2 separate regions of the Homo sapiens genome follow, and region 2 is linked to region 1. A link means that fine-mapping ties the variant in region 1 to the expression of a gene that starts in the linked region. Tissue or cell type: transverse colon. Region 1 holds a variant in brackets; the other region holds the start of a gene. All regions are shown on one strand. Distances are between the middles of the regions.

Region 1 (8,171 bases):
GCACTTACAACTACATGCAGAATCTAAAAAAGTCAAAGTCATGCTAACAGAGAGTAGAATGGTGGTAGCCAGAGTATGGGGAGTGCCAGCTATGGGGTGGTTTTGGTCAAAAGGTCCAAAGTTCCAATTATGCAGTGTGAATAAGTTGGAGGATCTAATGTACAACATTGTTTCCCGTCATCCTGAAGCAGCTGTATTGATAGAACGGTGGAATGGCCTTTTGAAGTCACAATTACAATGCCAACTAGGGGACAATACTTTGCAGGGCTGGGGCAAAATTCTCCAGAAGGCTATGTATGCTCTGAATCAACATCCAATATATGGCACCGTTTCTCCCATAGCCAGGATTCACAGGTCTAGGAATCAAGGGGCAGAAGTGGAAGTGGCACCACTCACCATCACCCCTAGCTATCCACTAGCAAAATTTTTGCTTCCTGTTCCCAATACATTACCTTCTGCTTGCTTAGTTGTGTTAGTTTCAGAGGGAAAAATGCTGCCACCAGAAGACACAACAAGGATTCCATTAAACTGGAAGTTAAGCTTGCCACCTGGACACTTTGAGATCCTTTTACCTCTAAGTCAACAGGCTCAGAAGGGAGTTGCAGTGTTGGCTGTGGTGATTGACCTGGACTATCAAGATGAAGTTAGTCTATTACTCCACAGTGGAGGTAAGGAAGAGTATGCAAGGAATACAGGAGATCCCTTCAGGCAACTCTTAGTATTACCATGCCCTGTGATTAAGGTCAATGGGAAACTACAACAGCCCAATCCAGGCAGTGCTACATAAGGCCCAGACCCCTTAGGAATGAATGTTTGGGTCACTCCACCAGGTAAAAAACCACAACCTGCTGAGATGCTTGCTGAAGGCAAAAGGAATACAGAATGGGTAGTAGAAGAAGGTAGTCATCAATACCGGCTATGCCCACGTGACCAGCTGCAGAAATGAGGACTGTAATTGTCATATTTCCTCCTTATTTTGTTAGGAACATGTTTGTGTATGTATACACTTGTACTAAGAAAATATCTTCATTTTATTTCCTTTCTTTTTCCTTTATCATGTGACATAAGATTTATTTACTTCAAATCAGCATTTAAATGTTGTTAACTTTATGTAACAGCATTTGGGTTGGGGATTGGTACACTTCTGGTTGTACGAAGGATAGCTGTATTATGTATTACCTAACATAATTATGACCTTATTATTATCTTTATTTGAAGATTATATATGATTTCAGGAGATGCGTATGGGTTCAAGTAGACAAGGGGTGGACTTGTGATGGTTAATATTGAGTGTCGGCTTGACTGGATTGAAGGATGCCAAGTATTGTTCCTGGATGTGTCTGTGAGGGTGTTGCCAAAGGAGATTAATATTTGAGTCAGTTGACTGGGAGAGGCAGACCCACCCTCAATCTGGGTGGGCACCATCTCAGCTGCCAGCCGGGCTAGGATAAAAGCAGGCAGAGGAACGTGGAAGGACTAGACTGGCTAAGTCTTCTGGCCCTCATCTTTCTCCTGTGCTGGATGTTTCCTGCCCTTGAACATTGTACTCCAAGTTCTTCAGCTTTTGGACTCTTGGAGTTACACCAGTGGTTTGCCAAGGGCTCTTGGACCTTTGACCACAGACTGAAGGCTGCACTGTTGACTTTCTTGCTTTTGAGGTTTTGGGACTTAGACTGGCTTCCTTGCTCCTCAGCCTGCAGGCAGACTATTGTGGGACTTCACCTTGTGATCGTGTGAGTCAATACTCTTTAATAAACTCCCCTTTATATGTACATCTATCCTATTAGTTCTGTCCTTCTAGAGAACCCTGACTAATGCAAACATGGTGACTATAGTTCATAATACTGTATCGTATACATGAACTTCACTAGAGAATAGATCTGATGGGTTCTCAGCACACACACATGCGCACACACACACACACACACACACTATGTAAAATAATGGACATGTTAATTAGCTTGACTATGGTAATCATTTCACAATGTACATGTATATCAAAACACTATCTTGTACACAGTAGATATATATAATTTTTATTTGTAAATGATACATAAAAAAAGGTAGAAAAATGCTGCACTCAAAAGGACCCTAATTTCATTTTAGGGTCACACAGTTTATGCACAGGTTTCCATTTTAAAAAATGCTTATAACATTCCCAGTATTTAGTGGCATGTAGTTGAAACCTCATCTAACAGAACTTTTTTTTATTAGAGTTGCTTGCAGGCACAGTGAATAATGGATGGGTATGGATAGCTCCTCCTAGAGGGATATTTTAGCAAATGATATCTATGCCTTCCTACACCCTACCAAAGAATCATATAACACTGAAATCTTAGATTTGGAAGGGACTGGCTTGATGTTTAGGTCCTATTCCCACCCAATTCAGGAAATGCAATATATCAGGCTTGACAAACCACAGTTCACAGACCACATTTGGCTTTGCACCTGTTTTTGTAAATAAAGTTTTATTGAAACACAGCCATGGCCATTCATTCACTTGCTGTCTATGCCTGCTTTCACCTTACAATGGCAGAGTTAAGAAGTTGCTACAGAGGCAGCATGGCCTCAAAAGCCAAGAAGATTTACTATCTGACTCTACAGATAAGGTTGGCTGAAATCTGCTGGATAACACTTCTGACATAGACTTTAGACCTTCCTGTCAAAATACTTCGACTGAGGAGAAACTGGTTTCCTAAGCAGCCTGCTCCAACTCAGGGAGCTCTATTTTAATTTTATTTTATTTCAGAGCTCAGGGAGCTCTATTTTAATTTTATTTTTAAGAAAAGAAAAAAACTTCCTGTATACTGAAATACACCTCCTTGCAAACTTCTATCCTTCAGTCCTAGATTTACGTACTAGACCCACACAAAACAACTGATTCTCCTTTTTCTGCTTTTAAAATATTTAAAGACCACAATGACCTGCCCACTAAATCTCCTTTGTTTTCTATTCTTTGAAATTACAGTATATCATCTTGATTAGTACATTAGAGTTTTTGGAGTCGATTCTTAAATAAATATTTTATGTATATTACTGGAATGCAGAACTACATTTATTAGAAATGTAGGATAATGTTGCCAATAAAATATTTTCTGGTGAGAAGGAAGTAGCATATTTTAAATATGCATGTTGTGCTGTCTTTTAGGATATCAAGTGGTGCAGCAGTAGTCAACAAATCTCTCCACTTTGTGCAGTAGAAAAGAGTTTATATTTTAGATTTCATCAGCTACCAGGCTCAGCAGAAAACAAGAACAACAACAACAACAACAAAACAACTGGGACAAAAGCACCCTGCCTTCACATCACAGCAGAAACCCTCAGGGTTTGTTTTTCTAAAAGGTGAGATTACAGACTTTTAACCTATTTAAATATGCTTCTAGGTTTAGTTGGAGTTTTCTTACAGTGAAACATGTTACATTCTAGTAGCACAATAAAACTAAAAAAACCTCTGTAGATTCAGGTGAACCAAATCAGAACTAAATTGAAAAGAGGCGTGGTAAGTAGAATTCTAAAACATTCTCCCAAATCTCCCACTCAAATCCTGGGGACAGTGAATAAAACGAGATATCACATCTGCCCATGATTATGTTACATGAGAAAAGCAATTCTGCAGATGGGGT[T/C]AAGATTACTAAACACTTGGCTTTGTGCCAATCAAAATGGAGTCAATCAGAGTGGGCCAAATCTTATTACATGAGCCCATTAAAAGCAGAGTTTTCCTCTGCGGTCAGCATAAGGAGATGTCAGAGAGATTCAGAGCGTTAAGAGGGATTGACAGCAGGGAAGTGCTCCAGCGCTGGCTTTGAGATGGGTCACGGGGAAGGACCTGAGAGTCATCTCTGGACAAGAGCCAAAAAGAACATGGGGATTTCACCCCTACCATCCCAAAGCACTGAATATTCCAACAAACTGCACGTGCTTGAAAGAGGATTTTTCTCCAGAACCTCCCCTTAGACACGTGCCAGGATGGAGCCCTCTCCACCTCCCCTTGTCCCAGATCCCCACGTGACTCACTTCAATCAGACCACTGCTCAAACATCATCTCCTCAGGATACCATCCTCCAGCAAGCATCTCATCTGAAAAGGCACCTTCCATCTCTTCCACCTCCTGTCTCTTCACCATTCTTTGTCTTTCTGCGTAACGCTTCTCACTCCCTGCCATTCTGTTACCTCCTTGTCCATTTCTCTGTTGTTTTTCAGACGCCCACTGTCTGTAACACCTTGCTGGTAGGACTGGGGCTTGCTTGCTGTCTTTCCCCAGCTCCCTCAATAGAACTTGGCAGACTTTTATGAATGAAAGAGTAAAACGATAAATAAATAAGCACATGAATAAGGAATGAAATATCTTTTAAAAACAAGAGATTGAGGACAGGAAGGTTGCTTTCCCCGCAGTTGTGGACCATCTCATCCTCACATGAAAGTCACAATCGCACATGTAAGCTATTACCTGCCAGTCTTAGATGACACTGAAAATGATTGTTGGATGAATTCTGATTGGTCCTTGTTCTGCTGAATGCCCTTTGCTGGGAGCAAATGTCGTCTTGAGGTTCCGTCCAATTGCATCATATGAGACACTGCAGTCCTTGCCTTTCCAGAACAGCATTGCTTTTGGTAATAATAAACCAACACTGGCTACAACATCAAGCATTATTGATGGGAGTCAAAATTAAGGCATAGACAGCTGAAAAAACTGAAGCACAATCCCACTCCTAGGAAGATGTGGCAATATGAAAAAATTAGTTGTGCCTGAGTGATTTAAATGTCTTAATTTAGCCTGGGAAACATGGCCAAACCCCAACTGTACAAGAAAAATTACAAAAATTAGCCAGGCACGGTGGCATGCACCTGTAGTCCTAGCTACTCAGCAGACTGAGGTGGGATGATCCCTTGAGCGCAGTAGGTGAAGGTTGCAGTGAGCCACAATTGCGCCACTGCACTCCGGCCTAGGTGACCCTGTCTCAAAAAATAGATAGATAGATAAATAAATAAATAAATAAATAAATGTCTTAATTTACTGTATTTCCATAAGCATAAAACTTAAAACTTGGGCTTGACTTGCGCAAGCAAGGACGCAAAGCCTAGAGGTAGAATATAGAAAAAAAAAAAGGAAAGCAAGCAAGCAAGGAGAGAGAGAGAGAAAGCAAGAGAGAAAGCAAGGAAAGAAAGAAGAAAGCAAGGAAAGAAGGAAGGAAGGAAGGAAGGAAAGAAAGAAGGAAAGAAAGAGAAAGAAAGAGAAAGAAAGAGAAAGAAAGGCTACTCTCCTTCCCAGGAGTGCCCAATAGATACTCCTGTGCCTACATATTTTTTTTTTTTTTTACTATTCAGCTAAAACATGTATTTTAAAACTATATATGGAATCTGAAAGTAAACTGAAAACATTTTTAAAATAAGACAGTCATGTCTAAATATTGTGATAATTTTTCTTCCCGATAAGATCTATAATGTCTGTATGACCCTTACTGAAGGAACAAAGTTATCCCAACATTTTTATATAGGAATCTGAGTTTCATTTAAGTACAGCCGTTATTTCTGTGAAACATAAATTGAGTAGTATCAGGAAAGGCAGAGATCAATAAATGCAAACCACAACAGAAAGAAAGTGACGGGTAAAGAGGAGAGATAATGATGGGAAGGAGAAAGAACGTGCCAAAAACTTATCTACTAGGATAAAGAGAACAAGATCAACAGCTAAATGCTGGAGTTAATTCCAAAACTGAATTCAGCCCAAGGAAATAACCATTTGGTGAACTTCTGGACAAGAAACTGAGGCAAGGATGCAACGAGTCCATTTTAGTAATTAGAGATGAGAGATTTATCCCTGAAATGTGGCATACAGCTAGCCAGCAGGAAAATGAACCTGGTTTAATTAGAGGAGAAAAATGACTAATTAGTCCAGAAAGTCATCATGGCAGAACCAAAAAACTAGACTGATGTGTTAGGTTAAGCCTAGCTGTCTTCTAAAACAATGCAGTGTAACTTTAACTTTCCTACTATCTAGAAAAGAGAAAACTCTGCATTTTCTTAAATGGTATTGCATTTAAAGGACTGGTGGGCATATATGCTGATGATCCAATACAGAGAATTATTGAACAGCACAAAGAAAATAGGGTGAAGACCTAAGATCATATCCAGAGAATGGGGGCCCTTCCTTCATCCTTCGGCTGACCTGACACACACTAACTCGCTTTTGGTCATAAATGAAAGACAGTCCTTTTAAGCAAACGGCAATATACTGGCTCTTGGGTTCCCAAGTAGGGTGGACCCACTGAAGAGTGAGCAGGGCAGACATGCAGTGAGCCTCAGCATCACCTGCCATGTGGGACTCAGGTTCCTCCAGGATTCTGTCCATTTCTTCTGCCTGCTTCTTCTCATCACCCAGCAGCTGCTCCAGAGGTTCTATTGCTGATTGATCTTGAGTTTCACAACCTGGAGTTTCCACCACAGAGATGGACTGTATCTCTTCTTCAATTGCAGCTGGGAAAACTCGTTGGGGAGAACTCGAATTTAACCTTGCTTGGGTCACTCAACAAAGGTTGAGAAAGTGGGATTGCCTAAGAATATGGCACATATTTACAGTGTGTGTATGCTGGGGAAGGAAAAAGATGAGAACAGAAGAAAAGCCGGTAATTCATTGTAGGATAATTTCAAAAATAAAAAGTGCTGCTCCTAGAAAAAGAGGGTGCCCACGCAGACTAAAAATTTTTAAATGTATCACTCAGGCATTAGATGCTGGAAGGAAAAAGGTTTTGATCTTCTAGAAACATTCCAGATAAAAATGGATTTTTACGACCAGCATCTCTTATTGGGTCATTTGGTCCAGAAACTGATATCCCCAGCTGTCTGTGACAATGCATAGAGCCCCAAATCAACAGTCCATCACCTGGAGAGGTTTCTGGACTCTAAATCCCTGGGACCAGTGATGCCTGTGGTTTTTGCTGATTCCCAGTAACTGAGTTTACTTTGTGCTTTCAGCTGAGCAAAATGTTCTGGTGATTCTACTTCTTCTAGTTGATTCTTCAGAGTCAGAGAAATTCACAATCTCTCTATGACAACAGTAAAGGAACCTTTTGTTAGAAAATCCAAGAGTCACTGACGACATCAGCTCGAAAGTGCTATTTATTTTATTACCCATTATGAATCAGCCATCTCCTGATTTATCTTTTACAGTTTTCTATGTTTTGAATTGATATCAATTCTTAGAATAAAATGCAGTACCTGCATCTAAAATAGAATTTATTTTTCTTGAGACACGTCTTTCAGGCAGAGGAAAGGTAATGGGCACACAAACCTTGATCATCTTCTTATAAAACAAGGCAGCATCCACATTTCAATACTGTAGCATATGAAATAATTTCTCAATTCCTACTCTGTCATAGCTTAAATGACTTACTGATTAAAATATGAGTAACAATAATTCTGGAGCTGAAAGACATTCTCAAGCCAAAAGGTAACATTAAACAATGTTTTACTTTAAATTTAATGTCATGTAGGGTCACTAAAAACAAAATGTAAGGGATAAATGTAAGTGCATAAAACAGAGATAATACCAATTTCCACAAATACAACTTTTATTATCCAAAATCATCTTGGAAGGACTTTTTCTAATATGCCCATTTTCTAAATAAGATTAACCATTTGATGGGAATATTTCCAATTGTATCACCTCCTTCCTTGACTTTTTCTTCATCAACTTAGGGCCTGGGTTGTAGGCACTGTGGCTCTTTGGGATAGTTAAATGGGTGCAATTTGGCTGAGACCGCCCCTGTCTTAAATGGCCCAGGCTACAGGGCTTGCCAAATGGCTTTGGTTTGCAACCTCTTCCTTTGATATCCATTGAAGAACACATGTCCTACCCTCTTGATTGCAAGCTTCTATCTGCTATTGGCTATCAGGAGCATAACAGATAAGTTCTAAGGTCCTTCCAGTTCCAAAAGCCATTGACCAACCCTGTGAGGCACTATGAGAGATTGGAGATTACTGAGGAATCTCTTCCAATAACATATGATATATAAAGGTAATTGTGATTCTATGAAGAGTGAATAAAAATTGAAAACAAAACCAATCTTGTTTAAACTATTAAATGAAGTTTTAAAAAATAATGGAGTGGGTAGATGTATTGCCTATCAAATTAAAATTCAGTGAACACGTGTCAGTTATCACCTTCATAAGTA
Region 2 (8,186 bases), 25 kb after region 1:
CAGATGATTCTCTGGTTCCCGCCATAAACCAGGAACCAAGTGGAGTTATTTAATGTGGGGAGGGGGACAGTGAGGTGGGAGGAGGCGAATCTGGAGGGTGGGCACATGTGGGGAGATGGAAATCATAGGTGTATTTTCAGGTGATGGTAACTTTGAGGCCTTCAGGTTGCTGTGGTCTGAAAGCAAGTGAGACAGCCAAGATAAGGCCTGAGCTGGAGATGCCTGTTCGGAGTGTCCCCAGCATAGAGGCAGCAATGGAAGCCATGAACGTGATCGGATCACCCAGAGTCCACGTGAAGTGGGAGGAGGGATGGGGTCTAGGGCTGAGCACAGGGTGCCCACCAGGCTTCTTGCTCAAGTCCCCTACTCTGGACAGATCTCCATCTGCATCCACCACACCAACTTCTATTAACACTAGGCCAACAGCGGCAGAAATCCTGTCTGCCCTTCTTGCTCTCTTCTCTGAGCCAGGATTCTGGAGAAGCAAGAGAAACTCCAACATTTTCACCATAATTAGAAAGACATGTCCTGGCACTACTTCCTAGGAAATTCAGTCTTTAATTTTGGTCGATGAAGAGAAGCTCTGTTTACCCCATCTTTGTTTCCTGACCCAAATCCTTTTCTCACCATACTACAAGATGATTTCCCCAGACCTTTCAACAAGTAAAAAGACTACAGCTTTTTGGAGGACTAATTTCAACAGCATGGGTTTGTAATATTTATCCCATAAATATCAAATTTGCATTGTCTTTTAAATTTGGACTAAGTTTATCATTGATATGAGACCCTGAGCAACTTGAGGGAAACATATTTTATTAGTCATATATTTTTGAAGTCTTAAAATAGCGTCTGGTGGATAACAAGTGCTTGCCTTGCGGAATAATTTATTTGTGTTTCTAAAAAACGATATCCTTTCAAAAAAAGAATAAATATAAAGGGACCTGATAGCAGTTGTGCACTTATATCTGGAGAATGTTAATCTCCCAGGATTCGGGCTATACCTGGAAAGCATTAAATTGCACCTATATAGTCTAAAATACTTAGTGGAATGTTTTTTGTGCTGAAATGGCTGAAATATAAGGACACGTTATATTGATTCTGGTGAGATTCTCACACTGTCAGATACACAGTACAATACTGATCATATTCACATGTACCCACCTCCACATTTTCTGCATTATAAAGGGCCACCATGGGCACTGGCCCGACCCAGAGCTTCAGCAGCGGCATGTGGCGGTATTCCTCTGTGTACTCAATGATCTGCTGAAAAAATTCTGGGGAAAAACATCAAATTTGAAATTCAATCAAGATGAGAAAGTTGTGACCAGTATTGGACAAAGGTTTGTTTTCTCATTTTGATGAATATACTAATTCTGTAATATGTTACTGTTAGAGGAAGCCAGGTAGAGAGCATGTGTGAACTGCCTGTAATACTGCAACTTTTCTGTAAGTCTAAAGTTTTTTTCAACATAGTATTTGCCACAGCAAATAAACACACATAATGCATGTTAGCTATTAGAGAATAATAATTATTAGGTTTTGATGTCCCAGAACGGGCATTCTTTCTAACGACTGCCCAGTATCACAGAGCTAGTAAATGGTGGAAACTGGCTTGTACCGAGCGAGACTCCAGAACTTCACCATAAACTATGCTGCTTCCAAATGTCTCTCAGATGAAGCAGTTGTCAAAATTGCTATGAAGGGAGCTGGGTGAAATCACCAGTGTCAATCATCCTGCGTCATGCAAATATACTGCCTGCCCTGGTCTGGTCTGACAGAGGGGACAGGGAGGTCTCAATCTGTGGTTCTAAGGCAGCAGGTCCAACAGCTGGGAGTAGCTGGGGAAGGCAGACTTTGTCACAATGGACTGGAAAATGCTAGATTAGAGTTTAGAGGCCAGTTGGAAGCCAACTGCAATCTTCAAGGTGAAATGGCTGAGGCCAGCGTTTGGACATTAGCCGCAAAATGAAACGCAACACCTCTTGTATGTGAAAGACAAGATTCTTGGGAACAACGACTGTATCTTAGAATATTCTGATATCCCCAACTTTGTTGAGGTCAACACTGGGCACAAAGCAGGGCCTTACTAAATGCTTGATTGACAACTAAAGAACTTACTCTAACTGACTTCTAGACAGTGATCTAGAAACTTTGCATGCAATAAATTTAATCCTTAAAGTGACTCTGTAATATAGTCACTTTAACAAGTAAAGGAGAAAGAAAACCCTCTAAGTTAAAGAGTTTTAAATAATTTCTCAAACAACTTGGATATAGTGTTGGAAATTGAACAGTGGTTTTCCTGATGCCAAAATCCAGAATTTGTTGGTGGAATAAAAAGTCCCTTTGTAAAAGACAGTATTCGTCATTGTCTTCACTCTGAAAGTGACTACAAGGAGAATTACTTTAAATAGTCCAGTCAGCTCACAGGTTGTTTTGAAACAGGTCTTTATTCACTAGAGATTTTAATTACTGGAATCCCCAAAACAGTATGATGAGACTTCAGTATATTACTTTCCAGGGGTAGGGGATAGGGGAAAATCTATATTTTTGTACAGTTTATTTTTTAATACCATAAAGCCTTAGGACAAAAGGGGTGGTTAGCTCTGCTTTTAGAATTAACTGAGATGATTTTTACCAGTGTGATTTTCATATCTGTGTTGGATTACTTGTTACATCAGTCATGATGATATTTGGTTGGCAAAGAGTTCGCTTGATTTTTTTCTGTCAAAGTATTTTTAATATTTTGGTAAACACTCTTCCATGAGGCCTCATCTTGTGAAGTTGAAATTACAGCATTATTTTTATTAGAGAAAACAAGTGAAAATGAGAAAAAGTCCTTCAAGCTTTGGAGTTAGTTAATGCTCAGCCTGTAAAACGATTACTAACAAATAATCCCAGAGGAAACTGGGTTCTGGTCTGGGCCAATTTTAAAATATGCCATTTTGGGCAAATCTTCTCATTTCTGGGTACCTCAACGTAATCCCTGATGAAAATAAAACTCTGAGATCGAGTTCGCCCTCCCTGACAGGGAGTTGTAAATACCAGGTACTTTTGAGAGCTTTCTAACTTAACGTGATTTTTTTCCATCAATAAAATGTCCATCTCTGTTTTAAAACATGATTTTAATTAAAAAATTCACTCTTTAATAAACAAGGCGTTTGACACCCTCCAAAGAAGTCTGCCTGAAGGCCCTGCCGTCTCTTAATTGTTATTATGTAACATCCTTTAAAGGGCTAAAGTATGAAGGTCAAGCGGGAACTGAAGCAGCAGTCAAGTCTTGTGATGCCGGGAGGAAGCGTCCAGTGAATCTCTAGTCTCTTATTTTCCAAAGTGGCAGCGAGAGGAGGGCGGCTCTGGGCGTTAAGGTGTTGGCCAGTTTAAAACCGCTCTGTGCTCCCAGGGAGCTTCTGTTCCTAAGGCTTCCCAAGCCAAGGCAGGAGGAAACGGCAGGGCTTTGAGAGCTGAGCAGCGGTGAGGTGGGAAAAGACCGAGGGCAGGGGTTTGGAAATACCGCATCCTGTGCTACACACAAAGAAAATGCTCACTTTGGGATGGGGCACTAGCAGTGTCGGCGGGTGCCAAGGGGCAACGACTAGAACTGGGAGTGCATTCTCCACAGGGTGACAGGCTCCTCTCTCCTGCGGCCAGCGCCACAAGCAGCGGGTTCCTGGCTGATCGGAGGGTGGGAACGGGGCTGCGGACCCCGTTGCGCTCCAGGAGGAGCGCCGGCCCTTACCTCGCCCGTCCGGCTTCATCAGCAGCGCGTGGCCCACCAGTGGGTAGGCGCGGGCCACCGTGGGGATGGGCCGCATCTGCTGCCATTTCCGCGCGTAGCTCGCCACCCTCTGCAGCAGGCTCAGGACCAGACTGGCGCCGGCCAGGGAAAGGGCACTCGCCGCGCCCCACAGCAGCAGCTTCTGCCACACGAGCCCCAGCCAGAGCCCCGCCATCGCCCCGGCTGGCGGCCGCGGGGTGCACTCCGGGAAAGTGCGGGCCCGCGGGGGCGTGGTGCGAGGCGGTGCCGGCCGCACACCGCCCACTTCCCCGCGCGGACCTGGCGCGCTCCCCGCTGCGGGGTCGCCCGGTCCCCGGAACGACGTTTCCCGCCCGGGCGGCGGCCAGAGAGGGCGCCACGGGGCTGTTCCTGCGCCCGGCCCGGCCTACGCAGCACCGCGGCCTCCACGCCCCAGCCGAAAGCGAAAGACCGGAAAACGGTTTCCGGGCCCCAGGGCGTAGTGATTGCACTGGAGGCCCGGAGGCTGCGCCGGGAGGAGGCCGGCGACACTTCCGGCCGCCTCCGGATGCGGGGTCAGGGGCGTCGGAAAGGTCACCGCGGCAGCCCGGCGCGCCCCAGCGGGGCTGTTCTGAGGGTGCTGCGAGGTTGCTCTACGTGCGGGATTCCGCGGGCGGGCAGCCTGCTCTGGAGAGGAAAGGAAGGCGCATCCGGCTCGGAGCCCAGCTCTGCTGCGCATCGCTCGCTCCCTGCGCAACTTGCAGCCCCGGGAGGCGGGGCGCGTCCTGGCTCCCGCGGGGTCACATGGAGCAGCGGGCGCTGTAATCCAGGGAGGCTTTGGGGACACGTTAGGGAAGTCAGCTACCCGTGTGTGTCCGCTGGCCCACTGGGACACTGGGAGCTCAATGAGGTGGTTATGAGCCAGGTATTTTCCAAAATACGCACCAGGCACCAGACCGAGGAAGCCGGAGCCCCGGAGAGCACGCAGGGGCGGGTGGGAGAGGAAGGCGGGCGAGGCTGCTCAGCGGGTGCCGGGAGACCGCAGCCGCGGGGTACTCGCAGAAGAGCCAAGACCTGCCACCCAGCCCGGGAAGGGAGGGAAGGGCCGCGAGAGGGTGCCCCATTTCAGCCTGGGGAGACGCGTGTGCTGGCCGCCAGTCTCTCTTCCCGGCAGAGGGCCCCAGTGCTGACCCCAGCCCCTTTTCCACGCTCGATGCTTCTTACAAAGTGGCCGGGCGAGGAGTGTCGCTCCCCGAGAGGCCAGGCCCTTCCTAAACACTAAAGTGCCAGGAAGATGAAACTGAATGTCCTGGATGCCCGCTTTGCTTAATTACTAATTACGTTCGTTCACTCGAAGCCACTGCATAAGTTGGCCACAGCCACCTGCAGGGCCTCTTTAGTGCAGAGAAAAACATGCCTAAGGCTTTTCTCCATTTGAATTTGTTTTAAGTCATCTGCATGGGCTGACGTGAAATAGCAAGTGAACAAAACAAGTTGCAGAACGGAGTGTGTAAAGTAATGCCTTCTTTTGGAGAAAAGGTTTCTTTCTCTACGGCTCCACTAATGTCTGCAAGTAAAAATACTGATCAGCTCTATGGAGTGGGAATGAAGATGGGGAACTTACGCTTTTTATTTCATTCACGTCTACATTGTTTAATCACTTTAACACTTTAAAAAATAAATATGTTCACTTAGTATCTTTAAGCAAGTCTCATGGGCTTTAGTTTCCTCCTCTCTAAAGGGTTGAGGCTGAGCTATAATAAGGTTAATTACAGCTATAAAAGTAAACAATTTGTCTACATACTGGGGATTCTAAAATAGGGGGAGGAAGGAAGGGGAGTAATGGTTGAAAAACTGTGTATTGGGTACTGTGTTCCCTATTCAGGTGAGGGGATCAATAGAAACTCAAACCTCAGCGTCAGGCAAATTTAACAAACCTGCACATGTGCTCTTGAATCTAAAATTAGAAAGAAAAAGGGTTTGTCTGTATCAGTCTCTGCTAACCTCTGTGGATAAAACCAGGCGGGTAACATACAACCCCTCCCCTCCAGAAGGAGAGAAGGGAGATTGCTCTGGGCAGCAGTGAGTCTCGGCCTGGGCAGAAATGGTCAGAAATGCTGCAGAGCCAGGAGGGGTAAAATGAGCTCAGGGGGCAGTGAGGTGCCCCTGCCTGGAGCACAGGGTCCCACGCAGTGACAGGTGCAGGATGAGGTGGGTGGGTATGGAGCCAGCTTAAAGAGACCTGCACTGCCAGGCTTAGACGCTTTATCTTTATTTTGAAGGCAATCTGTGGGTAAAGAACAAAATAAAAGCCTTGTCCCTTTGTTCCCTTAGCCATCTTTCTTATGCTTTCTTTGTTACCAGATAGGGCCTTTCTCATACTACCCTGGAATACTGAAATTTCAGACTAAACCAGTCAGGTGGCTGGGAGTGCAAGAAATCCTTGGCAAGACCCTTCTCCCCGGAAAGCCTCCTGACAGCAGAGTACACAGTGTCACACCTTAGAATGTCCACCATGAAATGTAATGGTGCTCAGTGTAGCAGATGATTGCAAGGCCAGTGTGAAGGCAATCTACCCACAACATTTATAACTCTGCGGGTTGTCAGCTTCATGAGCTATGCAGCTGAGTAGGAAGGCATCTCCTGACTTTCACTCCTCAAGATCCATTCTCTATGATGCCCTTCCCACTTGAAAGAGCTTTCTTTAGCCAAGGTCTTTCTTTGATACTCTGTCCCCCTAAAAATCAGTGCTTTTGAAAGTCATGGCCAGAATAGTATAAACAACAGAAGGGTTTTATAAATGTTAATACTTTGATTTCGCAAATTTTCTGTCACTTGGAATGATTCTTAATACAAAACAATGTACATTATAAAAATAAATTCATAGCTCAGTATAGAACTACATTATCTGCAAACTCTACTTACACACATCAAATCATAAAGGGTAGCAGGAAGTTGTTATGAAATTTTGAATCACAAGTACAAGGATCAAATAAAGTATACAACACTCAAACGTCCAGTTTCATGAACAAACCATCACTTCCATGTAACCACAACCCAGATCATGCGATACAACGTGAAATCATACAGCATGCACTTTTTCGTATCTGGCTTCCTAAACTCAACCCTGAGTTTAGATGAATTTGAAAAACAAGTTAGATAACTTATACCAAGAAATATCAAGACTTATAACATTATTAATTAAAATCATGTAATTGGCACACAAATGGAAAACAGCAATAAAACAGATCATATGTATGTGTACAATCACCTGATTTATGACAATCTATATTGACTATATTGCCATGTGTAATATTTTCCCTTATTTTTCACAGCTGTTTATTATTCCATTGTTGGAATATATTATAATTTATTATTCATTTTACTGCCAATGGATGTTTCAGTTGTTTCCAGTTTTCCTATGTTGTGAAGAATTTTGTATGATCATTGTTGTAGATGTCTTTTGATACACATATGTACATATTTCTCCTTCCTGTAAATATGCCCAGGAATGGAATTGCTAGGTCATAAGGCATGCATACATTTAGACTTAGTACTTCTTGCCAGTTTTCCACATTTGTACCAATTTACACACTCATGAGCAATCTCTGATAGTTCCAGTGGCTCCATATACTTGCCAATGTTTGGTATTGTCTTTTTTTTTTTTTTTTTTTTGCAAAGCCATTCAGTTGGGTCTTGTACTAAAACTGCATTGAGTATTTATTTATTTATTTATTTATTTATTTATTTATTATGTGAGACAGGATCTCACTCTCTCACCCAGACTGTAGTGCAGTGGCATGATCTCAGCTCACTGCAGCCTCAACTTCCCAGGCTCAAGCAATCCTCCCGCTTCAGCCGTCTGAGTAGCTGGGACTACGGGGGCATGCCACCACACCAGGCTAATTTTTGTATTTTTAGTAGAGACAGGGTTTCGCCATGTTGCCTAGGCTGAGCGTTGAAAGTTTAGTATGAATTTTCCTAGTGACCTAGGATAGTCAGCATCATTTCAGAAGATTGTTGGCTATTTCAGAGAGCACCTATTAAATCATTTTCCGTGTTGAACGTTGTAGTTGTCTGGATTTTTAGTGATTTGTAGGAATTATAAATAATTAATGAGCAATTATTACATAATAAATTATATATGAATACAAATCCTTTGCCAGCTATGTATTGCCAAGTTTCTTCCTCTCTGTAGTTTGCCTTATCACCCTCTTAATGATGTTGTCATAGTTCACTTTGTGCTCCTATAACCAAATATCACAGACTGGTACGGTTCTGGAGGCTGGGAAGTCCGAGAAAGAGGAGTCACATTTGATGAGGGCCTTCTGCTGCATCATCCCATGGCAGAAGGTGAAAGGCACAAGAGTAAACGAGAGACAGCAAGAAGAAGGGGGCTGAATTCATCCTTTAATTAGGAACCCACTCCCACAATAGTAGCATTAATCCATTT

Evidence for each region. PIP is the estimated chance that this variant, and not a neighbour inherited with it, causes the effect.
Region 2: it holds the start of CYP4V2, and the variant in region 1 is fine-mapped to the expression of CYP4V2 in transverse colon (CEDAR, PIP 0.95). The same link has a PIP of 0.9 or more in pancreatic islets.

Annotation. Positions count from the first base shown.
Region 1 is chr4:186,212,391-186,220,561 of GRCh38, reverse strand. CYP4V2 (cytochrome P450 family 4 subfamily V member 2) reads right to left here. Exons shown (of 11, transcript NM_207352.4): 11 at 7,099-8,171. It also overlaps a transcript of KLKB1 not described here. Among named protein-coding and RNA genes, the nearest start is that of KLKB1, 11 kb to the left of the region's middle. The variant T/C (reference allele first, on the strand shown) is at 3,624.
Region 2 is chr4:186,187,588-186,195,773 of GRCh38, reverse strand. It overlaps CYP4V2 (cytochrome P450 family 4 subfamily V member 2), which reads right to left and starts at 4,207. Exons shown (of 11, transcript NM_207352.4): 1 at 3,737-4,207; 2 at 1,162-1,274. The coding sequence starts at 3,950. It overlaps FLJ38576 (a long non-coding RNA gene), which reads left to right and starts at 4,284. Exons shown (of 1, transcript NR_046264.1): 1 at 4,284-6,742. RefSeq lists a silencer at 3,881-4,410.